2 linked regions of the Homo sapiens genome follow. The protein of the gene in region 1 interacts with the protein of each later gene in a pairwise test. Each region holds a gene or a part of one and is shown on either strand. Other genes may lie near its edges. The genes, in order: CBFB and CHRM5.

Evidence for each region.
Region 2: the proteins of CBFB (region 1) and CHRM5 interact in a two-hybrid assay, tested with the Homo sapiens proteins (one large-scale study listed by BioGRID and IntAct).

The regions. Positions count from the first base shown.
Region 1 is NC_000016.10:67,027,929-67,032,185, forward strand, and holds the start of CBFB (core-binding factor subunit beta), read left to right. Parts: upstream 1-1,220; 5' UTR 1,221-1,479; coding exon 1,480-1,557; intron 1,558-1,798; coding exon 1,799-1,885; intron 1,886-4,257. UniProt on the Homo sapiens protein: Forms the heterodimeric complex core-binding factor (CBF) with RUNX family proteins (RUNX1, RUNX2, and RUNX3).
Region 2 is NC_000015.10:33,966,979-33,971,461, forward strand, and holds the start of CHRM5 (muscarinic acetylcholine receptor M5), read left to right. Parts: upstream 1-1,518; 5' UTR 1,519-2,172; intron 2,173-4,483. UniProt on the Homo sapiens protein: The muscarinic acetylcholine receptor mediates various cellular responses, including inhibition of adenylate cyclase, breakdown of phosphoinositides and modulation of potassium channels through the action of G proteins.

The sequences.
Region 1 (4,257 bases):
CTGTAATCCCAGTACTTTGGGAGGCCGAGGCGGGCAGATCACCTGAGGTCAGGAGTTCGAGACCAGCCTGACCAACATGGCGAAACCCCGTCTCTACTAAAAATACAAAAAAATTAGCTGGGCGTGGTGGTGGGTGCCTGTAATTCCAAATACTCGGGAGACAGAGGCAGAAGAATCACTTGAACCCAGGAGGCGGAGGTTGCAGTGAGCCGAGATCGCGCCATTGCACTCCAGCCTGGGCGACAGAGCGAGGCTCTGTTTAAAAAAAAAAAAAAAAAAAAAAAAAAAAGAGGGCTGGGATTACGGGTATGAGCTACAGTGCCCGGCCACAGGACTAACTTTGAATCAAACTCTGCCATAAATCCCATGTCAGACTTTCTCCAGTTTGGGCTAAACAACTTCCCTAGAATTTATGGATCTTATTTTTTGCAGCTGATTGCACATTGAGTAAGTATATGGACTGGCAATCGGTTACATTCTTAACTCAGCTTGTTCTTCTTTAGAAACTTAAATTTATTGGGCTCCCACTGTGTGCTAGACCCACATAAAGGTTCTCACGCTAACACTGCAAACCTAGGAGTGTCTGCATTTTGGAAATAAGGAAACTGAGGTTTAGTGGTCCAATTCTTATCTAAGGCCCCAGCCAGCAGGTAGTGTAGCTGAGTGGGATCCCATCTAAGACCCATCTGACTCCAAAAGCCACGACCTTTCCACCATGACTCGGTTGGATTCTTTGGTCCGTTTCCACCTCAGTCTTCAACGTGCAGAGCCTACACCCCTGCCGGTCGGTTTAGGGACGAAAAGTCCCCAAGGACTTAGGTTTCCTCGCGTTCAAGTGACAATCTGGGGTTACTCCGCGCACCTGGGGAACCCAGAAGTTCCAGATGACCGAGGAAGGGCGGTAGAAAAGGCCTGCGCTGGCTACTCCCGTCTGCTAAAGGCCAGGCGGATCCCCCAACGACAGCTCCACGCCGAGTGGCCGCGGGCGAGCAGGGGGAAAAGGGCCCTGATGCGGAAGGAGCCCCGGGGCGCCACAGCCAGGCCGCTCCGCCAGCGGGCGGGTGGCGCATGCGCGGCGTGGGCCGCGGAGTTGTGAATGGTGCGTCTTGTTTGCCGGAGTTGGAGGCGGGCGGGCGCGCGAGGAGGAGGGGTGGGGCCGGCGGGGGCGGGGTGGGCGGTGAGAGGAAGTGGCGGCGGCGGCGGCGGCGGCGGCCGGGGGCGGTGAGCGCTGGGGCTGCGCGGGCGGCAGGCAACGGCTGAGGCGGCGGCGGCGGCGGCGGCGGCGTGGGTTGGGCTCGAGCGGGCGGCGGCGCCTCAGACTCCCCGGAACGGGAGCCCACGCGGGCGGGCGCCTGAAACAAAGGGAAGCGGGCGTCCGGGCGCCGCGGGTGGGCGGTCAGTCGGTCAGCGCGGAGCCAGCCAGCGGGTGCCCGCGCAAGCCCCGAGCGCGGCCGGCCGGCGCGGCCTCAGGGCGGGAAGATGCCGCGCGTCGTGCCCGACCAGAGAAGCAAGTTCGAGAACGAGGAGTTTTTTAGGAAGCTGAGCCGCGAGTGTGAGGTGAGGCAGGCGGGCGGGCGGCTAGGAGGCCGCAGCGCGCCCCGAGTGGGCCCGGGCGGAGAAAAGTTTGGGCGGCACGGTCCCCGGGAGTCCCGGTCGGTGCGCCCGCGGAGGGGCAATCTCGCCGGGGCGGCCATCGCCCGCAGCCTCTGCTTGCCCTTATCGGCGCTGCGCTGGGAGGGCGGGCGCGCGGGCGGCGCCGCGGATTTGGCTCCTGATTTCGGGCCGTCTTGCCTTGCAGATTAAGTACACGGGCTTCAGGGACCGGCCCCACGAGGAACGCCAGGCACGCTTCCAGAACGCCTGCCGCGACGGCCGCTCGGAAATCGTAAGTCGGCTGGCCCGGGGCGCGCGCGGGTCACTTGTTGCGCGGGGCCGCGGCGGCCCAGGCCGGTTCCGGACGGCGGCGCGGCTGCTGCGGCTCCCGGAACTGAGTGGGCGCCGTCTCACTTCCTACTCGGGATTCAAAATGCGAAACCAGATGCCGCGGGCCGGTACTCGCGGGGAGACGCTTTTCCTGGGGCTCGCCGCGGTGGCGCGTGTCGGCCAACGGAGCACCGCGAGTGGAGCTCGAACCCGAGCCAGACTAAACAAGCGAAGGGCATTGTTTAGGCGGCGACACCGAAGAAGGGTTCAGGGTATTTGTAGCAAGCAAACCCCCATTCGGAAAAAGAAGTGGAGCTTCATTCAAGGTCGGCGATAGTTTGTTTCTTAGAAGGTAGATCTGTCGGTAATTCTCTGTGTCAAGCGGTCTCACTACCAGATCGCCGAGTAGAAATCTTTCCTCCAGTTATTTATTCTAATAGAGAGGGGAGGGGGGGGAAAAGGCCCTAAAAATGTCATTTTCTTAGAATGTTAAGCTTCAGGAGAATCAGAAAGAAACCATTATCCCCATGTCCTGAGTAGGGCTGCTGTTCCTAAAAACTGCACAGATGGGCAAAACCCACGGTTGATCTCGAGGTCCTTGTTTTAGGAGGCAGATTTAGTGCGTCTTCACCAGACCTTGGGTTGAAAAAAAAAATCCAAGGGTCCTAGTTCCTCTCATCTTTTTGGTTTGCCTTGTTGGAGGTGCTGATGAGGAGGGAGTGGTAGGAAGAAACCAAGAAAAGAGGTTGATTATTACTATTTTTTTGAGGTAGAGTCTTGCTCTGTTGCCCAGGCTGGAGTACAGTGGCTCGATCTCGGGTCACTGCAACCTTCGCCTCCTGGGTTCAAGCGATTTTCCTGCCTCAGCCTCCTGAGTAGCTAGGATTACAGGTGCCTGCCACCACGCCCGGCTAATTTTTGCATTTTTAGTAGAGACGGGGTTTCACCTTGTTGGCCAAGCTGGCCTCCTGACCTCAAGTGATCCGCCCTCCTCGACCTCCCAGAGTGCTGGGATTACAGGCGTGAGCCACTGCGTCTGGCCTGATTATTTTTTAAAAAGTTGAAGCACTGTCTAATGGAATGCTGTTACTCTCTGCTCGGTGACTTGGACTCACTGCATTGTTAGAGGCTTGAAGCTAGGTGCGATTTGAATTTGGGTTAACAGTAGGAAGACATTGGAAATTTACTTCTCCCACCCCCTTTATAAAACCAGTTTATTTTTATTCAGATATAATTCATATGTCATAAAATTCTCCCTTTACATCACTGAACTCAAATTTATTTTTAAAGAATATTTTGATATTTTAAGTGAAAGCTTTTTAGAGTTGTAATAGTGAGAAGATACTGGTTAAATTTATCAGGAGCTCCTGAATATTTGGTCATTAGTGCATGTTATGAAAGAGAGTCTCAAGCTTTTAGCCCACTTGCAAATTTCTTGAGTAATTGTAGTATTTATATGATTGAAGTGCATAAGACATACTTTTAGGTTTTGGCACTGAGTGGTATAATAAAAGAATTCATTAGCTGGTGCGATGATCGTGTCATCCTTTGCCTGGGTTACCTTTTGCAAAGGGAAGGTGGTATACCTGACGATAGAATTTCCTGGAGGTAAAGGATGCAAGTATAAAAGATAAGTTACAAAGTACTTGTACTCTCACTGTTTGCTTTTTTGTTTTGAGACGGAGTCTCGCTCTGTTACCCAGGCTGGAAGCACAGCAGCATGATCTTGGCTCGCTGCAACCTTCGCCTCCTGGGTTAAAGCGATTCTCCTGCCTCAGCCTCCTGAGTAGCTGGGATTACAGGCACACACCACCACGCCCGGCTAATTTTTTTGTATTTTTAGTAGAGACGGGGTTTCACCATCTTGGCCAGGCTTGTTTTGAACTCCTGACCTTAAGTAATCCTCCCACCTCGGCCTTCCAAAGTGCTGGGATTACAGGTGTGAGCCACCGCGTCTGGTCTTGTTTCGTTTTTTTTTTTTAAGAGAGAGGTCTTGCTGTGTGGCCTAGGCTGGGGTGCAGTGGCTGTTCACAGGCACAATCATGAGGCACTACAGCCTCAAACTTCTGGGCTCAAGCGATCCTCTTGCCTCAGCCTCCCAATAGCTGGGACTACAGGCTCGGCGTCACCATACGCAGCCCCATGTGTTGTATTATCATCACTATCTTTGAAAGCTGAATTTTTTTGGAAATTTGGTGAATCATAGCTAGTAGGGTGTTTTCTGTCATCTCAGACTTTGCTGAATGGAATTATGAATTCAACCCATAGGATATCTGAAATGCTGTAATATTATAGTAGTAGTACAGGTGGTTAGTGTTTGTCATGAATTTATTT
Region 2 (4,483 bases), on another chromosome or scaffold:
TCAATCATTGAAATGGCTTAATAATCAGTGGCTTAAAACTTGGGGTATTTATTATAGAAGTGACCAGTATATAATGACCAATCATTACCATATGAAATTACAATCCTTTTCAGTATCATGCAATGTTAAGTGGGAAAAGTTCAAGAAAATATTCTAAAGATATGTTCTCTTGCATAAATATTCCTATTACAAATGTGTGTCAAAGACCACTATAAAACTAAAATTCACTTCTTTCTCATACATGTTCATCTGTCAGTGTTTAAAATTCTATTGGCTAACAATTAAAGTGTATACTTTGTCTGGATTCTCACTCAGAAAAAACCTACATAAAGACATAGTTTCTGAGACACAAGGAATTTAAAATGAACTGGATATTATATGACTCCAGAGGATTATAGCCAATGTGTTAGGTGTGATAATGGCACAGGGTCATGTGAAAAAGTGTCCATACTTTAAAAATATACATACTAAAGTACAAATAGGTGAAATGAGATTTGCTTTAAAATATTTTAGCAAAGAATTGAATCTGACAATTGTTGAATCTTGGTAATGAGTTTCTGGAGGTTCATGTATTATTTTTGTATTATTTTTCAGAGTTTTGTGTAAGTTTGAAATGTTCCATAATAATTTTTTAAAATTTAAAAACATTATATTGTCTAGATACACTCATAAAGAACTCAGGCAGGGAAAAAACGTTTAAATTTAAAATTTAAATTTTAAACTGAAGTGCAGTTTTAAAAATTTGAATTTTAAATTTAAAAACTGAAGTGCAAAAATTATGAAATTGACATTTAAAAATCTATTCTTTTATACAGCTAATATGGATTTCATCTAACTTAAGGAAAAGCTTTAATGAAGACCCTGTTAAAAGTTTGTATCAAATGAGGACTTATAATGCTTTACTCCAAAGCAACAAAACGCATATGCCCAAAAGATGTATAAAAACAGGCATACATTTAGGAAAAAAAAAAAAGGCAGCCTTTTCTCTGCTACAAATATTTAAAACTCACAGTATACTCTTTCTATCTCAAAGACTTTTAAAAATTATTTTCCATCTTTAGGGAAAACCATATGAGAAAATAACTCAGCAACATGTCTGTGAATAATGCCTAGCAAAGCTTAAAAAAAAAAAAAAAAAAAAAAAAAAGCTTCTAGCCAAAAAGACTAACAGGAAAAAATGAACATTTTCAAAAGCATTTTGGAACCTTATTCCAGCTACCTCCATGCTAAGCCCTCTTTTTCCTCCCAAAATACGTCACTTAACTGTCTGTCAAATAACTCTTGCCCATTCTACCTGATCACACTCTGAAGCTGCAGCTTTTCCTGGATTCTCTTCTCAATGACAAGCTGTTCAAACAGAGAACACCTATCAAAACGAATATCATCATCTGCTCCTTTCTTTCTTCCTTTCAGGATATACTGCTGTCCAGCAGGGGAAGTAATTAATGAGTTTTTTATGTATGGCAGCGTCATCCCATCAGTTTGCTGTCTGGTTTGAATAGCTCCTATCAGCTCTTCATTCATGCCAAGTACGCTCACCGTCCAGAGACATGATAAAGCCGTACTTCCTTCTGGATTTTTACCTCACTATTCAAAAAACAGGGTACCAGAAGCATGGGTTACAAAAGCATGAGGAGGACAGAAGAAATGCCTTCATCTTCTACAGAAAGGAAGCTGATGGACTGAAAAGTTCGTATGGAGAAAGGAAAGCAAGAGTGCAAGAACATCCATGCTTCTAGTCCAGATAATGTTTTTTAAAGCAGCTTGATTTGGAAGCGTGTGTAATTCTGAAATACGAACAAGCAGAACTTTTCCAGGGGGTCAAATGCATATAGGAACAACCAGGATTTCTCATTGCTGAAGCATTCAATGAATCTTTAATAAGTTCTCAACACTCAGATTGTTTGTGATCAGATCAACTGCTGTTACCAGATAAAGGCAAAACTCACCCTTCTGGTTCTATAATCCTATCCAAATGGAGTCTTCATCTACCGCATACTATCCTAACTAATGCTACAGGATTATCAGGAATACAGATATAAAGACACTGCAAGAAATAAAACACTGGCAAAATAAAACATGAAAGGAAAGTAGAGAAGGCATTTTGGGTCTCGAAGCTTACTATTTCCAGCCAGAGTTCAAATTACTGAGCTTCAAACAAACCACTGCCAGGTAAGATTTAATTTTATAACCTTAATTTATATCTTGTCTACTGAAATTAAATCTGCTCGTGCTGTGAATGAGATAGTGGATTTGAATTTCTTGCAACCCTTCCTTAAGCTTTTGCAGATTTAAGCTGAGGTAAACGCTTGTTTTTACTTATGCTGCATAAACAAGTCACTCAGAACTAGATAATAAAGCATCCAAAACTCCCATTCATTTTTCATTGAATTTGTCTCATCTTTGTCTTTATTTTTATCCCAATTTTGTTTTATTTAATAGCTTGAAAAAAATGCATGAAGAGAGCCCTGAATGGTGCATAAGAGCCATTCACAGATAATGTTTACCAACAATATTCAAATGAACTTAGTTTCCCAGAGTACTTGATAAAACAAAGAAAAATTAATAAGCATTTTAAATATTTTTATTCATATAAAGGAACAAAAGCTCAATGACTGATTTCTATTGTTACTAAGAAAAAAAAGCTGTGATGTCATTTCATTCATACTAAAGAAAAATAATCTCTACTAAATCGAGGTATAACACTCTTGTAGGATAGGGCTAATTTATCCTAAAGATACTAGACATTTTTATAACAGACTAAATGAAGACATTTTTCTGATTCAACAAGAGGATAAAAAGATGAAAGATGTCTGGTACCTTAAAACCTCAAAAGCTTTGACTCAGGTCAGTGGTCCAAACTGTAAAATGCAAAGCACTAGTGAAGCCATCAAAGGATTTTAAAAGATACAGTGCCTTTAAGAAATTCCCTAGAAATCACTGCATAATGAGACTTCTAGAGTGACAATCTTATGTAAAAACAACAAAACGTTATCATTTAGCAGAAATCCCAACCACATTGGTTTTCATGAGTTTCATTGGAAAACTTAGGTCCAAAGCACCTTATCATAAAGAAGTCCTACAACAAATAATATTTATATTATCTTAGAAGAGAGGAGACAGGGAAACAAGAGCATATCACACCTAACTACGGAGATCTTGTGGTAATATACATAAAGTTATCAGAAGTAAGTATTCAATACTTGTCTAAAAGTAGTCAAATTAGAAATTCTCTTCCATTTCACTGAATTCTTTCCTTTTTTCAAATTTTAGTTAAGGGAGTAAATTATATGATCCCTTCAGGCTTTTCAAGACAGTCTATAAATAACCTTAAATATCATAAGTCTTTTACATCTGAAGTCATTACAGAAACTTACCTGTCATTTTCCAGTACCAAAGGAAAGCAGCAATTTAATACAAGTAGTGATTATCTAATACAACAATTTGTTTCAGAGAAAAAAATGTTTATTTAGAAATCTCAAAATACTTCTTATGCATACCAGACATAACTAAAAGTTAAGGGTGGTATTGTTGTTGTTTACCTACACTGAGAAACAGCTGAACCCTTAAGGGTTCTTTTCATCTGTTCCCTCCTTATTATGGTATTACAGTTTGTAAACAGACATGATTCAAAAATATGTAGATATTTTAAATGAAGAATATTAATCAATATTTTAAATTATAATTAAAGATTTTTTAATTAACTTGGACAAAAGTATGAAATTTCTACTATGCTCAATTTGCTTCCAATAAATGGAATTAAAGGGGGCAGATAACAATATTCCTTAAGTGTTCTGGATTTTATTTACTCATTGTAATGTAAACAGAGACTCATATCCCACTAATTTGGGGGCTTTGTTTCTATAACTCACCTTCTAATGACAATGGCTGGGCAAATGAATACTACCTTGCTCCACCCCAATTTGGTCCTTGTCAGCATCAATCCCAGTGAATTTTCACTTTCTTTCCTTTCCAAATCAAGGCTTTGCTCTATAATAACCCATTCAGAAAAGTGATTACTGAAGTTTTGGTAACAGCTTTCAAAAAAATACCCTACAGCAATTTGGAATAATCTGTATTTTCTTCATGTAGGGTGAAAAAAAAATTGAAAACTGCTTCAAGTTTACATCTCATGGGTACAAATGGATGAGGGATTTTATGCTAGTACCTGAAGATTTGGTTTATTTATAACAACTTTTCCCTGTTATTGATAGATTTAACAATTAAAGAGATTCTGAACAGTCTTGGGATGTAGTCAATGACCTGCCTACTTGTTTCTGCAATTTAGAATGTATTTCATTCACACATATTATATAAAAGTATTATATTGTAAAAGTAATGTGATTGTGTATCATTAGTTCCTTTCATAGAAATGGAGCAAATATTTTGGCTGCCATATCCTTATAATAATACCTATTGCTATATCCTTAAATTCTGGTCATTTTAAATTATCCAAAAGCTATAAGCTTTTTATTTAAACTAT